3 separate regions of the Homo sapiens genome follow, and regions 2 and 3 are each reported to be linked to region 1. Evidence: microRNA targets listed by miRTarBase, many of them from high-throughput screens and not tested one by one. Region 1 holds a microRNA gene; each other region holds the end of a gene's coding sequence.

Evidence for each region. The annotated mature microRNA hsa-miR-519e-5p reads UUCUCCAAAAGGGAGCACUUUC and lies in region 1 at 3,401-3,422, opposite strand. An mRNA with a match to its seed (bases 2 to 7 or 8) in the 3' UTR can be bound and repressed. Matches are read on the target gene's strand: a 7mer-m8 pairs with bases 2 to 8, a 7mer-A1 pairs with bases 2 to 7 and ends in A, and an 8mer does both.
Region 2: miRTarBase lists ZNF148 as a target of hsa-miR-519e-5p. Seed matches in the 3' UTR shown: 7mer-A1 at 2,388-2,394 and 7mer-A1 at 1,964-1,970.
Region 3: miRTarBase lists TGFBI as a target of hsa-miR-519e-5p. Seed matches in the 3' UTR shown: 7mer-A1 at 1,517-1,523.

What each region holds. Positions count from the first base shown.
Region 1 is chr19:53,678,154-53,683,374 of GRCh38, reverse strand. MIR519E (microRNA 519e) reads right to left here and starts at 3,435; the gene lies at 3,352-3,435. MIR515-1 (microRNA 515-1) reads right to left here and starts at 4,372; the gene lies at 4,290-4,372. It overlaps MIR520F (microRNA 520f), which reads right to left and starts at 1,216; the gene lies at 1,130-1,216. The region is part of intron 2 of LOC107985342 (a long non-coding RNA gene); the gene reads right to left. RefSeq lists an enhancer at 5,180-5,221.
Region 2 is chr3:125,227,803-125,233,023 of GRCh38, forward strand. ZNF148 (zinc finger protein 148) reads right to left here. Exons shown (of 9, transcript NM_021964.3): 9 at 1-5,221. The coding sequence ends at 4,539. Among named protein-coding and RNA genes, the nearest start is that of SLC12A8, 18 kb to the left of the region's middle. RefSeq lists a silencer at 4,029-4,229 and an enhancer at 4,163-5,221.
Region 3 is chr5:136,062,117-136,067,337 of GRCh38, forward strand. TGFBI (transforming growth factor beta induced) reads left to right here. Exons shown (of 17, transcript NM_000358.3): 16 at 547-571; 17 at 1,070-1,702. The coding sequence ends at 1,110. Among named protein-coding and RNA genes, the nearest start is that of TGFBI, 36 kb to the left of the region's middle. RefSeq lists a silencer at 562-661.

The sequences.
Region 1 (5,221 bases):
CCAAATGAAGTGGCCCTGGGCAGGAGTCTCTGTTGTCAGATTCCATGACTAAGACAGCCAGGGAGCAGAGTGAAAATCCCAGGGGCTCTCTCTCCCAGAAGACACCTGCTCCATCCAGATCAAACCCAAAATGTCCCCAGAGAATGATGCCTGCTTCTCCTTTCCCCTCGGCTCATCCTGCCTGCATCGGTGCAGTGCCCTGACGTTCCCAGCCCAGAGGCCTTCACTCCTTCCAGTGCCCCAGGAGGGTCACCTTGCAGTTCTCAGGGAGGAAGATGGGGTCTTCCACCCTTGTGAGCTTCCCAGACATCAGGGTCTGCCCGCCCCACTCCATTCCCAAAGGATGTTCCGCCCAGTTCTCCCAGCCTCCTGCTTCCCTCCAGGGACCACCCTTCAGTGGTAAGATTCACATTGCAGACAACCAGGACCAACCCATTATCCTCAACTGGACACCCATACAAGATTGGTCTACGTGACCGGCCTACAAGAGGCAGATCCAGAGCTAGAGAGATGGGGAGTCGTTGCCACGGTCTGGGTGGAAGAGGTGGGTGGGTACTGACTGCAAATGAGTATAAGCCTCTTCGGGGTGATGAAAATCTTCCAAAACTAGAGTGGTGGTGGCTGCAAACAAGCTAAAATCCACATCTCAGAGTTCATCTCAAAAGATTAGTTTCTCGGCCGGGCGCGGTGGCTCACGCCTATAATCCCAGCACTTTGGGAGGCCGAGGCGGGCGGATCACGAGGTTAGAAGATCGAGACCATCCTGGCTAACACGGTGAAACCCCGTCTCTACTGAAAATGCAAAAAATACAAAAATTAGATGGGCGTGGTTGCACGCACCTGTGATCCCAGCTACTCAGGAGGCTGAGGTTTCAGTGAGCCAAGATAGTGCCACTGCATTGCTGAGACACACAGTGAGACTCCCTGTCAAACAAACAAACAAACAAACAAAAACGACCGGAGCCCAAGAAATGTAGGTTGAAGTGTCACCGCACTCCAGCCTGGGCAACAGGGACCTTGTCTTGGAATACAACAAAACAAAAGCAAAACCCCACCATCATCCAAGTCTGATGATAAGCACGCTCTGCAAATATTTTACCAAGATCAGCATCAACTTCAACATTGCTTTTCCCAAACGGTAACCCTCTAAAAGGAAGCACTTGCTTTTCTTTCTGACCACAGAAAGCGCTTCCCTTTAGAGGGTCACAGCCTGAGATCCTCTTGCTCCAGCACCGTGGATTTTTTGTGGGAATCTTCCTTGACCAGGTTTAAATGGACACAAAAATAAAGATGCATTTATTGGGGCCGGGCGCAGTGGCTCATGCCTGTAATCCCAGCACTTTGGGAGGCCGAGGCGGGCAGATCACGAGGTCAGGAGATCAAGACCATCCTGGCTAACAGGGTGAAACCCCGCCTCTACTAAAAATACAAAAAATTAGCCTAGCGTGGTGGTGGGCACCTGTAGCCCCAGCTACTTGGAAAGCTGAGGCAGGAGAATGGCGTGAACCCAGGAGGCTGAGCTTGCAGTGAGCCAAGATTGTGCCACTGCACTCCAGCCTGGGTGACAGAACGAGACTCCATCTCAAAAACAAAACAAAACAAAACAAAAAGATGCATTTATTGGCCCTGTTTGCATGTTTTCTGGAATCCAGAACATAAACCCCTAAAAGGACCATCTCCAGTCCTTTGCTTCAAAGAATCAGCAGGTTAGCCTTGTTCATCAAGGGGCAATCCTCCTGAGTTCTGTCCCCAAAGAGAAAAAGCAATGCCTACCACATATACCTTATATTTAACCATGAGAATTGAGCTGGATTTCTAGAGAACAGCAATGGATTTTGAGCCAAGTGTTCACTCGAGTTCCAGCACAGGGACACACAGTCCCGATGGGAGCATCCAAAATGGAATCTACTATGTTCAAGAATATACACTGTCTCACACACAAACATCCTGCAGGATAGACCACAGGGTATGCTGTATAAGCTCCTCAATAAATACAGAAATACACAAGTATGGGTGGGGCGTGGTGGCTCACACCAATAAACCCAGCACTTAAAGAGGGCAAGGCAGGAGGATCACTTGAGCTCAGGAGTTCGAGCTCAACCAGCATGGGTAATATGGTGAAACCTTATGCACAAAAAATAGAAAAGTTAGCTGGGTGTGGTGGTGCGCACCTGTAGACAAGTACTCAGGAGGCTGAGGTGGCAGGTGGAGGTTGCAGTAAGTCGACATGGCACCACTGCACTCCAGCCTGGGTGATAAAGCTAGACCTTGTCTCAAAACAAAACAAACAAACAAACAAGAAAAACACAGAAAGAAACAAGTAAATAAATACCCAAAGTGATACAAGAGTATTCTCCGTGTGTAGAACAGGGTTTGGTGTACATATGACTACATTATATACATGATAAGACTATATGATTAAATATACATCATATATTGTTGAGACCCTGTCTATGAAAAAAAAAAAAAAGAATATACTGTTTGCTCACATTAAAAATAACTCCTCACCGGGTGCGGTGGCTCATGCCTGTAATCCCAGCAGTTTGGGAGGCCGAGGCAGGTGGATTAGTTGAGGTCAGGAGTTTGAGACCAGCCGGACCAACATGGCAAAACCCCGATTCTACCAAAAGGACAAAAATTAGCCGGGGTGGCGGCATGCACCTGAAATCCCAGCTACTCAGGAGGCTGAGGCAGGAGAATCGCTTGAACCCGGAAGGCGTAGGTTGCAGTGAGCCGAGATCATGCCACTGCACTCCAGCCTGGGCGACAAGAATGAGACTCCATCTCAAACAAACAAACAAACAAACAAACAAAATTCCTACACACAAGTGCTTGCTTTGGCAGCACAAAAAAATACAAATAATAATTAAAAAAAAAAAAAAAAACACCCTGCAGTCCGAGCAGGGTGGCTCATGCCTGTAATCCCACCACTTTGGAAAGCAGAGGCGGGCAGATCACCTGAGGTCAGGAGTTCAAGACTAACCTGGCCAATGTGGTGAAACTCCATCTCTGCTAAAAATACAAAAATTAGCCAGGCGTGGTGGCACGTGCCTATAATACCAGCTACTTGGGAGGCCGAGGTTGCAGTGAGCAGAGAATGTGTCACTGCCTGCCCGCCTGGCCCACATAGTGAGACTCTGTCTCAAGAACAAAAACAACAAAAAAAGTAGGGGGGACCAACTAGCCTAAGAGGTCTAGGTTGGAAGCGCCACCGCACTCCTGCCCGGGCAACAGAAACCCTGTGTTGCAAAAAAACTAAACAAAAACAGAACCCCAACATCATGCAAGTCTGATGATAAGCACGCTCTGCAAATGCGTTACCAAGATCAGCATCAACTTCAACGTGGTTTTTCTCAAACAGTAACACTCTAAAAGGAGGCACTTTGTTTTCTTTCAAACAGAAAGTGCTCCCTTTTGGAGAATGACTGCATGAGATCTTCTCGCTCCAAAACTCTGGGTTTTTGTTGGAATTTTCCTTACCAGGTTAAAATGGACACAAAAATAAAGATGCATTCATTGTCCCTGTTTGCATGTTTTCTGGAATCCAGAACATAAACCCCTAAAAGGACCATCTCCAGTTCCTTGCTTCAAAGGCTCAGCAGGTTAGCCTTGTTCACGAAGGGGCAACCCTCCTGAGTATTGTCTCCAAAGAGAAAAAGCAAAGCCTACCACACATACCTTATATTTAACCAAGAGAATTGGGCTGGATTTCTAGAGAACAGCAATGGATTTTGAGCCATGTGTTCACTTGAGTTCCAGCACAGGGACACACAGTCCCGATGGGAGCAACCAAAATGGAATCTAAGATGATATTTAAGAATATACGTTGTGGGCCAGGCACAGTGGCTCATGCCTGTAATCCCAGCACTTTGCGAGGCCGAGGCAGGTGGATCACCTAAGGTCAGGAGTTCAAGACTAATCTGGCCATCATGATGAAACTCCGTCTCTGCTAAAAATACAAAAATTAGCCAGGCGTGGTGGCATGTGCCTGTAATACCAGCTACTCGGGAGGCAGAGGTTGCAGTGAGCAGAGAACATACCACTGCACTCCAGCCTGGGCCACAGAGAGAGACTGTCTCAAGAGAAAAAAAAGGGGGAGGGGGTGGGGGCAGGGACCAACTGAGCCCAAGAGGTCTAGGTTGGAAGTGTCACCGCACTCCAGCCTGGGCAAGAGACCCTGTGTTGCAAAAAAACTAAACAAAAACAGAACCCCAACATCATGCAAGTCTGATGATAAGCACGCTCTGCAAATGTGTTACCAAGATCAGCATCAACTTCAACGTGGTTTTTCTCAAACAGTAACGCTCCAAAAGAAGGCACTCTGCTTTCAGACAACAGAAAGTGCTTTCTTTTGGAGAATGACTGCATGAGATCTTCTCACTCCAAAACTCTGGGTTTTTTGTTGGAATTTACCTTACCAGATTAAAATGAACACAAAAATAAAGATGCATTCATTGGCCAGGCGCGGTGGCTCACGCCTGGAATCCCAACACTTTGGGAGGCTGGTCAAGAGACCACGACCATCCTGGCCAACATGGTGAAACTCCGTCTCTACTAAAAATACAACCATTTGCCGCCTGTGGTGGCATGTACCTGTAGTCCCAGCTACTCGGGAGGCTGAGGCAGGGGAATTACTTGAACCAGGAGGCAGAAGTTGCAGTGAGCCGAGATCGTGCCACTGCACTCCAGACTGGCAAGAGTAAGACTCCATCTCAAAAAAAAATAAAAATAAAAATAAAAAAGGTGCATTCATTGCCCCTGTTTGCATGTTTTATGGAATCCAGAACATAAACCCCTGAAAGGACCATCTCCAGTTCCTTGCTTCAAAGGCTTAGCAGGTTAGCCTTGTTCATCAAGGGGCAATCCTCCTGAGTTTTGTCCCCAAAGAGAAAAAGCAATGCCTACCACACATACCTTATCTTTAACCAAGAGAATTGGGCTGGATTTCTAAGGATGTTGAGCCAGTGTTCACTTGAGTTCCAGCACAGAAACACACAGTCCTGATGGGAACATCCAAAATGGAATCTAAGATAATGTTTAAGAATATACATTGTTGTACACACAAATACCCTCCAGGACAGACCACAGGCTAGGCCGTAAAAGCTCCTCAGTAAGATTTGACAGAGCTGGGGGGAAAAAAAGAATGTACATTGTCACACACACGAACATTCTTCAGGATAGACCACAGGCTAGGCTGTAAAACCTCAATAATTTTTTTTCT
Region 2 (5,221 bases), not on the chromosome of region 1:
AAAGCACATTATATAAATGACTAGCATTTAAAAACATTTTTTCCTATAAAATGTAGGTCATATACATTTATAAATTGGCGGTTTTATTTCTAAAGCAGTGATGTGTGTGTTCAAATAGCTGTCCTGTACAGTATAATATCTACTCACTTGAAACTATAATAGGTTTGTCTTTCTTTGTATTGAAGTTGAATAAATTCATCTGATCAGCTGAGAAACCAAGCTTGAAAAATAAGTATCTAAAAATCAATGTAGAAAGTTTAGAATTATTGAAATGTAGTTATGAAATATGAAGAGAACTATCTATTTCACAATGGAGCTGAAGTCACCTCAAAACTTACGGGCTTGAATCTAAAACAGAAACAAATATTAAAATCCAAAGCAAATCACAAAGTTAGGTAGCAGTACAGAAGCAGGAAAAAAAACCACATCCCTTCCTTCAGTGTGATGGGCACTAAGTTTTGCGGTCTTCCTCCATCTTGCAGAAGAGTGGTAAGGCCATTCAATGCTTAGTGAAAGTGAGTACAGATGAAGTCAGATTTAGCCTGTCTCCCCTGCAACTTCAATTATGCTGTGTAAACAGTGTTACGTTCCAATAGGAGGAACAATGGAATTTGCTTATAAAAACTGATTAAAGATAATCATTATTAAATGAAATAAGGATAATTAATAACTCTGAAATGTTTTTAGAACTTTCCTGATGCTACTTGTAAAGTTAGCACTGCTATGTATTATTGCTTACATACAGTACAACATCATATGCCTTCTAACATAAAGCAGTACTGTGATTTGTTTGTACATATTTACAGATTCTTAAAAACAAGCTGTAAAAACATTACATACTTTCAGACAATACAAATTAGCACATTGGTACTCACTTCAAAACAAATGGAATGCATAACATTAATAAACATCATAAAGGAAGACTCACATAAAAGTCCTTGATTGTCAAGACACGTTTATATATAAACTCTAACTGTGCAGAATTAAAGATTCAATCATAGGTACATCCTTATTTGATGAACCATATTTACAGCATGGTATTGCATAAAAAAATAAAATAATGTTTACAGGGTTTTACTTTTTTATCCATTGGATTAAAGAAAGCAACAAACATAACAAGAAATGTTTGTCTGCTTTAGTTTGTTTCCTACCAAAGTTTAAGTGAAAAAAGGAAACACGGTTTTTATTTGCAGAATATAGCAAAACAACTGGAAAATTATTTCCCTGAAATAAAGCAATTTGAAACGGAAAATTAAATTAAATTTCAGACTCAAAATACTTCTCAATGATTATTATAGTGCTTCTTCAAGTAAATATACTGTGAAAAAAAAATGAGTTCTAGTTTAAAATGTTCTAAGAAATGCAGTACTACAGTAATGCCTACTTTTAAAGTTTCCCGGCCTTTTTTTTTTTTTTTTAAACAGCCCTTTAAAAACCCAAATTAATCAAATGAAAGAAGCGGCAAAAGATCTAACCTAGCTGGCACTCTGCAAGTGTCTCTCCTCTGTGGAAACGAAATCCTGCCCTGAGCACAATTCTTGACATAACTGCCTTCTGCCTCTTGAGATAAAAATGACCTGACCGATGGCTGGCACCCTCAGCCAGAGCTAAGAAGATGGATTCCTACCTTGTTAAGTACCACATTTGCATGTAGACCCAAAACGTTTAAGAGCCACTTAAATATTCAAGACAAATGAAATATGTGAGAATAAGGTTTTAAAAAACCCTTTAGAAGATGTTCAAGAGATACTGCCTCGCCTAACGTGATGTTTCCAATCTTCAAACGTGAGTAGGTCCCAAGAGGAAAAGCACACCTCACTCAGATTGATCAAAAGTTTAAGGGTGTACCAGCATGTTTTTATAGAACAATGTGCTCACTTTGAGAAATGAGAAACATGAATTGCAGAAGAATATCTCATATCCTCCATGTTTCAATCTGAAGCAGCACACAAGGCTACTTATTTTCTCCATTAATGCCCAGATAGAAATTAAATAACCTTCTGAACCAAAGTGGGGAAATCCAAAACTGTTGAGATGTTTGTCATATTATGATAGAACAAGGTAACTCTGGTAGGCATTTGGAATTTCACAGTAAGAGAGTGATGACTATACGTAAATGGTAAGTCAATAAGTTATGCTGGCTGAGTATCACTTATCTAAAAACTGCTTATAACCTGGTAGAAAAGTCTGCCATTATGTAGATTTAAAGAAATGTGTTGAAAACAGGAATGCAACACCTGAAAGTCTGCTTGCATAACTACCATTTTCAAAGGCCTTCCTTCCCAAGCTCACCCTAAATGCTCAGCAAGAGTCACATTCTAAAAACTATGCTGGTGATGTTAAAACAACCGAAAAAAACCTCTCCACTGTATCAAAATTGCATCAAGTTCTCCATGAACAAAATTTTTGATCAGGCTCCAAAACAACTCAAGAAATAAATGCCTACTCTCACCAAAAGAGAAAAATACCAATGCCTATTTAGGGTGAGCACAGTTCCATTTTTAACGTATCACCTGAATGAAGCCTTTTTGTAATTATGTAATGCACAACACAACACACACAATCTTAAGAGTCAATAATGGCAGAACTTAAATATTTACTTCAAAGAAGTCTTAAATTCTTGAAAACTTTGGCAGCAAAGAAAGCTGTCAAACGGGAAAACTACTATTTCAAGCAAAACTTAATAACCAAAGTATACAGGAAACCACATTAAATATAATTTATATTCCTTATCATAAAAACACCAATATATTCAAAATAAATGAAGGATGTTAAGGGTGGATAGTTATTTCTTCCCTTTCTTTATGAGAACAGTCTTGGGATAACATTAAATAAAAGAAAAAATAATTTAAATGGATAACATATTCTATATTGAAACAAAGACTGCAGAGCTATAGGGCCAGTATAAGAGTCAAAATGGAAATTAAGAATATTTTCATTTTCCAAGGGTATTAATTTTAGATTTTCACTGGTGCTATATCAGGATGTGCATTGTGACAACGATGGCAGAAAATTTAAAATGTAAAAATGAAAAAGTTGTAACAAAGAGTCAATAACTAATATAACTTCCAAAAATCAAAACTGCCCAACGCATAACTCAAACCATCATTCTTCAGAAAAGTGTGTGTGTGTATATATACATAAAAGCACTATTTATTGTACCATGCTGTATTATTTTAAGACAGAGTATTAAAAAAAAACATTCATGGTATAAGGATAAAGTCTGTAGTTTATTTAGATTTTGAAATGCAACAAAAATTTTCCGATCACTCATCTAGCTGAAAAAGAAATGGTAGTTACTGGAATTAGTAAACACTTTTGGTTTGTAAAGTTGTAATGAGCAGTGTTCATTAAAAAGTAACTCAAGATAAAATATGCAATTAAAATGCCCATTTCTTTAGTTTCTCTGGATACTGTTTAATTATCCAATCTATCAAGAGTCTAGAAAGAAAAAGATTAAACCAGGTTTTACAGTTCCAAAGATATCCCAATTTCCTTTTATTGCCAAAAGTTAAAATTGTCAATTACGAGATGATTATGACACAACCATATCAAACCTAAAAATCTAATTTTTTTTTTACTTTGAGAAATCAAAAATACCAAATAGATTCTAAGTGCTCTATGTTAACTGAAGTGTATATGTAAAGTAAAATACAATTAAGCTTTAAAACGTGGAATATACATTTTGTGTAAGCATTATGTTCTTGGGAATGTAATCTACAGAATTTCTTTTACTAAAACTTCAAAACCTTGATACCTGCACATGAAAAATCATAAAAAATATCTAAGTACAACTGTACAAAGAAACTGACACCAATATGCATACTTCCATAGAGAAGTGACTGCTTCAACAGTTGTGTGTTTTGGTAAAAGTTCTGAAAGTATGCATATTTTTAAAGTAATTAGGCTTTTAAATAGTGGAGTCTTAGACTATCAGATTTTTATTACTTTTTTTCCTTCAAAAAAACACGTCAATATAATGCAAAATGAAAATCAAGGGTATATGGCATATCATTCTTTTTAAAAGGTGGTTTCTTGGTTTTTTTCCCCCTATAGGACACACTAATTTATTTAAGCCATAATCTCTTGACATTAAACTTTTAAGTTCACTCTGTCTGTAAAGTATACTCAGATTCCCTGCTGAAGTGCAATGACTATGCTGAAAAACTTAGAAACAGTATGAGTAAATTTCACACAATTACTAATCTCCTAAGAATGTACAATGTTATCAGTTAGGAAACAATTGTGCGAAAGTCTTTTTTTTTTCCTTTTTAACTTGGTGTGGGTGGAATAGCAAGTTTCTGATCTAAAACAAGTAATGCATTGCTTCTATAAAGGTGACAACATGTAAGGCAGTTCAAAGAATGCTGACTAACCAAACGAAATGCAGTTATTGGATTATCTTGCTATTCATATCAGCTTAACTTGTTATTACGCATTGCTCTTAAATCTGTACAGCACTCCATTTACACAGAGTAACCCCACTCTTGATTAATCTGTTCTAAAGTGCCAGTATTATTTACACTTTTTTTTTTTTTTTAGCCAAAAGTCTGGCCAGTTGTGGCATCAGGTGAAGATGTCATCCCAGCTCTATTATCATTTACATTCACCAAGGGAAATTCTGAAAATTCAGCACTTGTCCCTGGTCCCCGAAGGTTCACCTGTCCATTGGCAGTGCTAAATTGAGTAGCTATTCCAGCTCTTGATCCATGATAGGGAGCACGGAAGGGCTGTTCAAAGGAGCTCATTTGGTAAGCTTGGTGGACAGGCTGGGCCTCAGCTTTCTTCTGAGAAGTCACTTGATCCAGAAAGTCCTGTGTTGATGTGGCAGAAGCATGGTTTGTCTCATCACCTGAAAAGGGAAATGAGTGCTGTGAATCACCAACTATTAGTCCAAAGTGGGACTTATCTGGAGTTGTTCTTAGTGGAGAATTCATTCCTGATCGAAAGCTATTGATGGGCATGGTGGCATAGACCTGCTTGTCTATGGAAGAGAATGCTGGCTGATTTGGGAGGGTCTGGTTATCAGTCACAAAGTTAAGGCTCGGGCTATTCAAATAGGCATCATTTTGGCTAGTTCTGTCCAAAGCCTGCTGCAGAAACTTGGAGTATTCCTGCAACATGTTGGCTTTATCTGATGAGGATGCTTGGGAGCTTGATCCAACATTCTCTGACGGGGTGACCTCTGGTACTTCTGAAGAATTTATTGATATGCTAGAAG
Region 3 (5,221 bases), not on the chromosome of region 1:
TTCCTTTCCTGCTCCCCAGCTTGCCCAGTGCTCAGTGCCCCACTTGGCTCTTTTGCTACTTCGGGTCAGGTGGAGCCTCTTGGGAATGTGAAGTGCCTTACAGAAAGATTGCACTTCAAGAGGAGAGGCTGCAGGGAGCCATCCTAAACCCAGAGGCCTGGAGCTTACTGTGTCACTTTACTTTTGTACACAGGGGTCTCCTTAGTGCCCTCGAGAAGGATTCTTGGCCCTGAGCTTCTACTCCTGAGGCCACCTCTGTGCAGCCCCAGCTCCCTCAACTCTAGGCTGTAGTCTCAGTGGGAAAGCCTGGCTTGGGGGTCTCCTAGGAATGTCCACCTGAAGGCACACTTGATAGGGGCTTGCACAACTTATGTCTGCCAAGGCCACCTGAGGAACTCCCTGGTGCCTATAAGTTCCACCTTCCCCTTCCTCTTCCTCGCCCCAGCATTTTTTCTGAGTAGGGGTGGCAATGGGCAAAGCCATTGTCATAAGCAGTTGCAGGTATAACTTTCACTAGAAAACCTGACACCTTGTGTTTTCTTTCAGGCTTCCCAGAGGTCTGTGCGACTAGGTGAGTCTGGTCTGGGTTTGAAGTCATTGCAGACCTGTTTAGGCCTTACCCCCAAGCAAGCCCAAGCCTGCCATCTGCTGTATATAGATAAGAACATCATGGTGCAGTAAAAGAAGCCTGGCCTTTGGAGTCAGAACAGCAGGGTGACTTGGGGTCAGACCCAGAGCACCCCATTTCCTTCTCTGTAAGATGAGGATAATAAGAGTAACAACCTTTTAGGGTTAAGGTGAGTTTTCAGCTTAGGAAGTCTGGGAATATTGCAAAGGGCTTGGCAGGAACCCATGGTGAGGATCTAGTTCCAAGTTGATAGGTACAGAAAACCAGAACATCGGGCCTTGAGTAAAGAGTGAAGTTTCACAAACCACAAAGCACCTGCTATGTGCAGGAGAGCATGGCAGAAGGAGGCTGCTTGGCCCTGGTCCTTGAGATTCTGACAGTGTCCTAGACAGACATGGGGAGATCTGCACCTATTTGACGTTACCAACTTCTCTTTTTCAGCCCCTGTCTATCAAAAGTTATTAGAGAGGATGAAGCATTAGCTTGAAGCACTACAGGAGGAATGCACCACGGCAGCTCTCCGCCAATTTCTCTCAGATTTCCACAGAGACTGTTTGAATGTTTTCAAAACCAAGTATCACACTTTAATGTACATGGGCCGCACCATAATGAGATGTGAGCCTTGTGCATGTGGGGGAGGAGGGAGAGAGATGTACTTTTTAAATCATGTTCCCCCTAAACATGGCTGTTAACCCACTGCATGCAGAAACTTGGATGTCACTGCCTGACATTCACTTCCAGAGAGGACCTATCCCAAATGTGGAATTGACTGCCTATGCCAAGTCCCTGGAAAAGGAGCTTCAGTATTGTGGGGCTCATAAAACATGAATCAAGCAATCCAGCCTCATGGGAAGTCCTGGCACAGTTTTTGTAAAGCCCTTGCACAGCTGGAGAAATGGCATCATTATAAGCTATGAGTTGAAATGTTCTGTCAAATGTGTCTCACATCTACACGTGGCTTGGAGGCTTTTATGGGGCCCTGTCCAGGTAGAAAAGAAATGGTATGTAGAGCTTAGATTTCCCTATTGTGACAGAGCCATGGTGTGTTTGTAATAATAAAACCAAAGAAACATACGTCCTGTGTGCATGGTACAGTGTGCTGACCTGAGGCCGTCATGCTCCTCCACACCTCAATTCTGCTCTGGAGAAGCTCAGAAAGGAGCCCCGAGGGATGGTTTTGGGGAGATTCCAGCAGCCAGCCCTCAGACAGCCAGACAGCTCATGGGGGTTTGAGCCTGTCTTTGCCAAACAGGTTTTTATTTCACCCTCCTCCGGTCCTGGGGTTTCAAGTTTTCAGTGTTGCCTTCACCCCGCACTTTATTCCTCTTATTACTTGGAAGTACCTTCCCTCCAGCATGGTGATCCCCTGCCTGTGTGCTGGACTTTTGAGTCCTCAGCACCAACCTGTGAAGTGGTTGCCAGCATAATCCCATTATGCAGATGAGGAGACCAAGGCCCAGGGAAGGGAGAACCACCAGCAGCACGTAAAATAGCTGAGCTGGGACTGGAACTCACACCTCCTGACTCTCAGTGACCACCACTGACAACAGCATAAGTCCAGGTTTTCCAGGCCCATCCCCTCTGTGCCAACCCACATTCAGATTCCTTCCCCGGCTCCCGTAATCTCTGGCATCTAGAATATCCTCAGGACTCTGAGAGGTGATATCATGTGGTTGTGGTGCCATTGCCCCCTACCTGTGTGGCCTGGGGCCAGTCATGTGACCTCCCAGGGTCTCCTCTTCTGTAATAGGGAGATGACCGTCACATCTACTTCATGGGTCCATCGTGAGGATGAAATGAGATGATCTATATAAAATGCTTGGTACAACATTAGGTGGCCTTATTTTTATCCTGCCGTCTGGGACTGCTCAGGATCAATGCGCCAGAGAGCCTTTATTTGTGTCTTTCCCACAGGTGGGCTGGCCCACTTTCCTAGAGAATGGGACAGACCTCCTTCCCACCCACACCCATCTCTGCCAAGGCTGATTCACTCCAGCAGGCGGAGCTCATTTCACTTCATGGAACCAATGACCCAAAGATATATCCCCAGCACTACTGCTGGTCAGTCCACTGCTGCTGGGAATACAGCAATGGTAGTGGCAGACAGAGGCCCTCTCTTAAATAGCTTCCAGTCTGAGGAAAGAGAGATATGACATCAATCCATTAAAATCATTCATCCATTGGTTCCACAAATATTTGTTGAGGGCTACCTATGTGCACCCCCATGTTAGACCCTGGGGAATAGACATGTCATTCTCATGAGGCTTCTCTACTGATGGGGGGGAAGAGAATTGTCAACCAGATAATGGCACTACAGCCTGTGTGTTCTTAGTGACTCTGAGGATAGCACTGTGGTTCTGTGACAGATAATGAAGGATTTGGAAGCAGGAATGCCCAGGAGCTCCCAGAAGTGGGAAGAGATGAGAGGAATGGAAGGAACTTACCTGAAGGTGAAGGCATCAGGCTAGGGGACCAAGGGAGAAGGTGTCCTGAGAGGTAAGGCTTAACCTTGGGTGTGAATTCAGTTCCCGTCACTCTCCCATAGCTCTGTCCTGCTGTTCCCACCTCCCCTGCAGCCATGCGGGCTTGGGCGGCTAGTGAGGGCCTTGCTCATGCTGGGTATCCTATGCTATGCTTCACTTTGAGCACCTAAAATACACACACTGCACTTTACCAAGATGACCTCGGAAACCAAAGAGGTGATCAGCATAAGTTTTAAAGACCCTTAAATTTAAAGTAAAAATCACTACAGGATCCATTATAAATGCCAAACACTAAGATGTGTGTTTCCAGTTCTCCCCTTCATTTGTCCCTGCCACTCCCTGCCCTGACTTTGCCCCACCCCCTAGTAATGTGGGCTCCACTCTATGCTCCAAACTCTCCCTGGAGAGAAATCCTCCCTGTGGTTGAGGACAAGGCGCAGCCTTCCCCTCCCACCAAAGAAGGTCAGATTCCCTTTTTTGGTTCCTAACCATCCATACCCCTTCTTTTCTCATGAAGACTCGGGCTAAGCATTCATTAGGGCTGCCATCTGGAGGATGGACCCTTAGAGCTGAGGGGCCAGCACTGTGTGTTTCCAGGGGTGGGTGATTTTGGGGAGGGAGGTGTGCCTCACCCCATCAGAAGGCCAGAGGGTAGCCCAAGCTAGAAGGAGGTTGCCCAGGCCTTGCCTGAGCCCTGACCACTGAGCCCCAACCAAGGAAATGGAAGGAGAGGAAGAAGGGGAATGGGCTCTTCTTAGTCCACTTCTGTCTTTGCTGTCACTCTGGGAATACAAAGCTTTCTGGGATGTAGAGAGGACTGCAAAGACCCTCAGCATTGGGCCCTGAGGCCTCCCAGGATGGGGTATGCCTTTCCCACACAGGGGACAGGGGTGGCCTAAACCTGGCCACATTGGCCAACTGAGAGGCCAGCTCAGCCATGGGGCCAGAGAGGCCTGCTGTATTGGGCTATGCACCTATGTGCATTATTTTTTCTATTACTTGCACTGATACTATGACACAGGTAAGTACTATTAAAATTCTCATTTTACTGCTGCAGAAATAGAAGCTTAGAGAGCTAAAGTAGTTTGCCAGGTCACAGAATAAGAAGAGGCTGAAACACAAATCCAGCCATTCTTAACCACGCTTCTCCCTTCTGCTCAACTATACCAGAGGCCAGGAGGGGTAGTCAAGGCAGCCATGGACAAGCAGACATGAATGCCAGGTGGTCAGAAGGGCTCAAAACCCCCTACCCTCCAGAGAAGCCCCTGCAGGCCAGGTCTCTGCTTGCACAGCCTAGAACATAACTTGTTTCTATGGTGCCAGGGCATTAAGAATTAGCAATAGCCACGAGTGCCCCAGAACTCATGTCTGGAAAAAAAGAGAGGAAAATACCTCTGTGCTTGAAAGCATAATTCAGTGTTATGCTCTTAGAAGAGATGCCTGGAATATTATGCTCAGAACTCTTTTCAAAGCCAGGAGAGAAAGTCATGGAATGAGGGATGGGCCCGAAGCCCTGTCCAGAGAAGTCAAATGAGGCCACCTTGGGCCATCCCTATCTGGCAGGGAAAGAAACTCATCCATTCCAGAAAGCCAGAGAGCCAGCCCAGAGAATAAGTGGTGGGTGGAGAGGGGAGGAGTCTGGGACAACCTCTATACACACGCACATTCATTCACACACACAAACACACACACACACACACACACACACACATGCATGCATGCACACACACCCCTGCATGGGAAACCGAAGACACAGCCTTAGGCAGAGAAAACAGGCACAGCACACCCACTTGTGGTTGGGGAGAGGACTCCAGGACCTGGAGGTGGAAGGCAGCAGCTGGAGCTCTGGCCTCAGGCCTGTTAGAGGAGGCTCCCTGGAGCTGCTACACCCTGTCACCCATGCAGGCCCTAACAGTCCCTGCAGTGCTGGAGCTCCCCATCACTTGGGGAGGCGATGGAGGTCACTGAGACCTGAAGAATGAAGAGGGTGGGGAAGAGAATTCAGTCTGAAGAACAGTGTCATAAAGGCTCTGAGAAAATGTGAGAGAGTTTTGTGTGGCTAGAGAGAAGAGAGACAATTCCTCTGGTGAGAGGTTTGGGAGCTAGACTG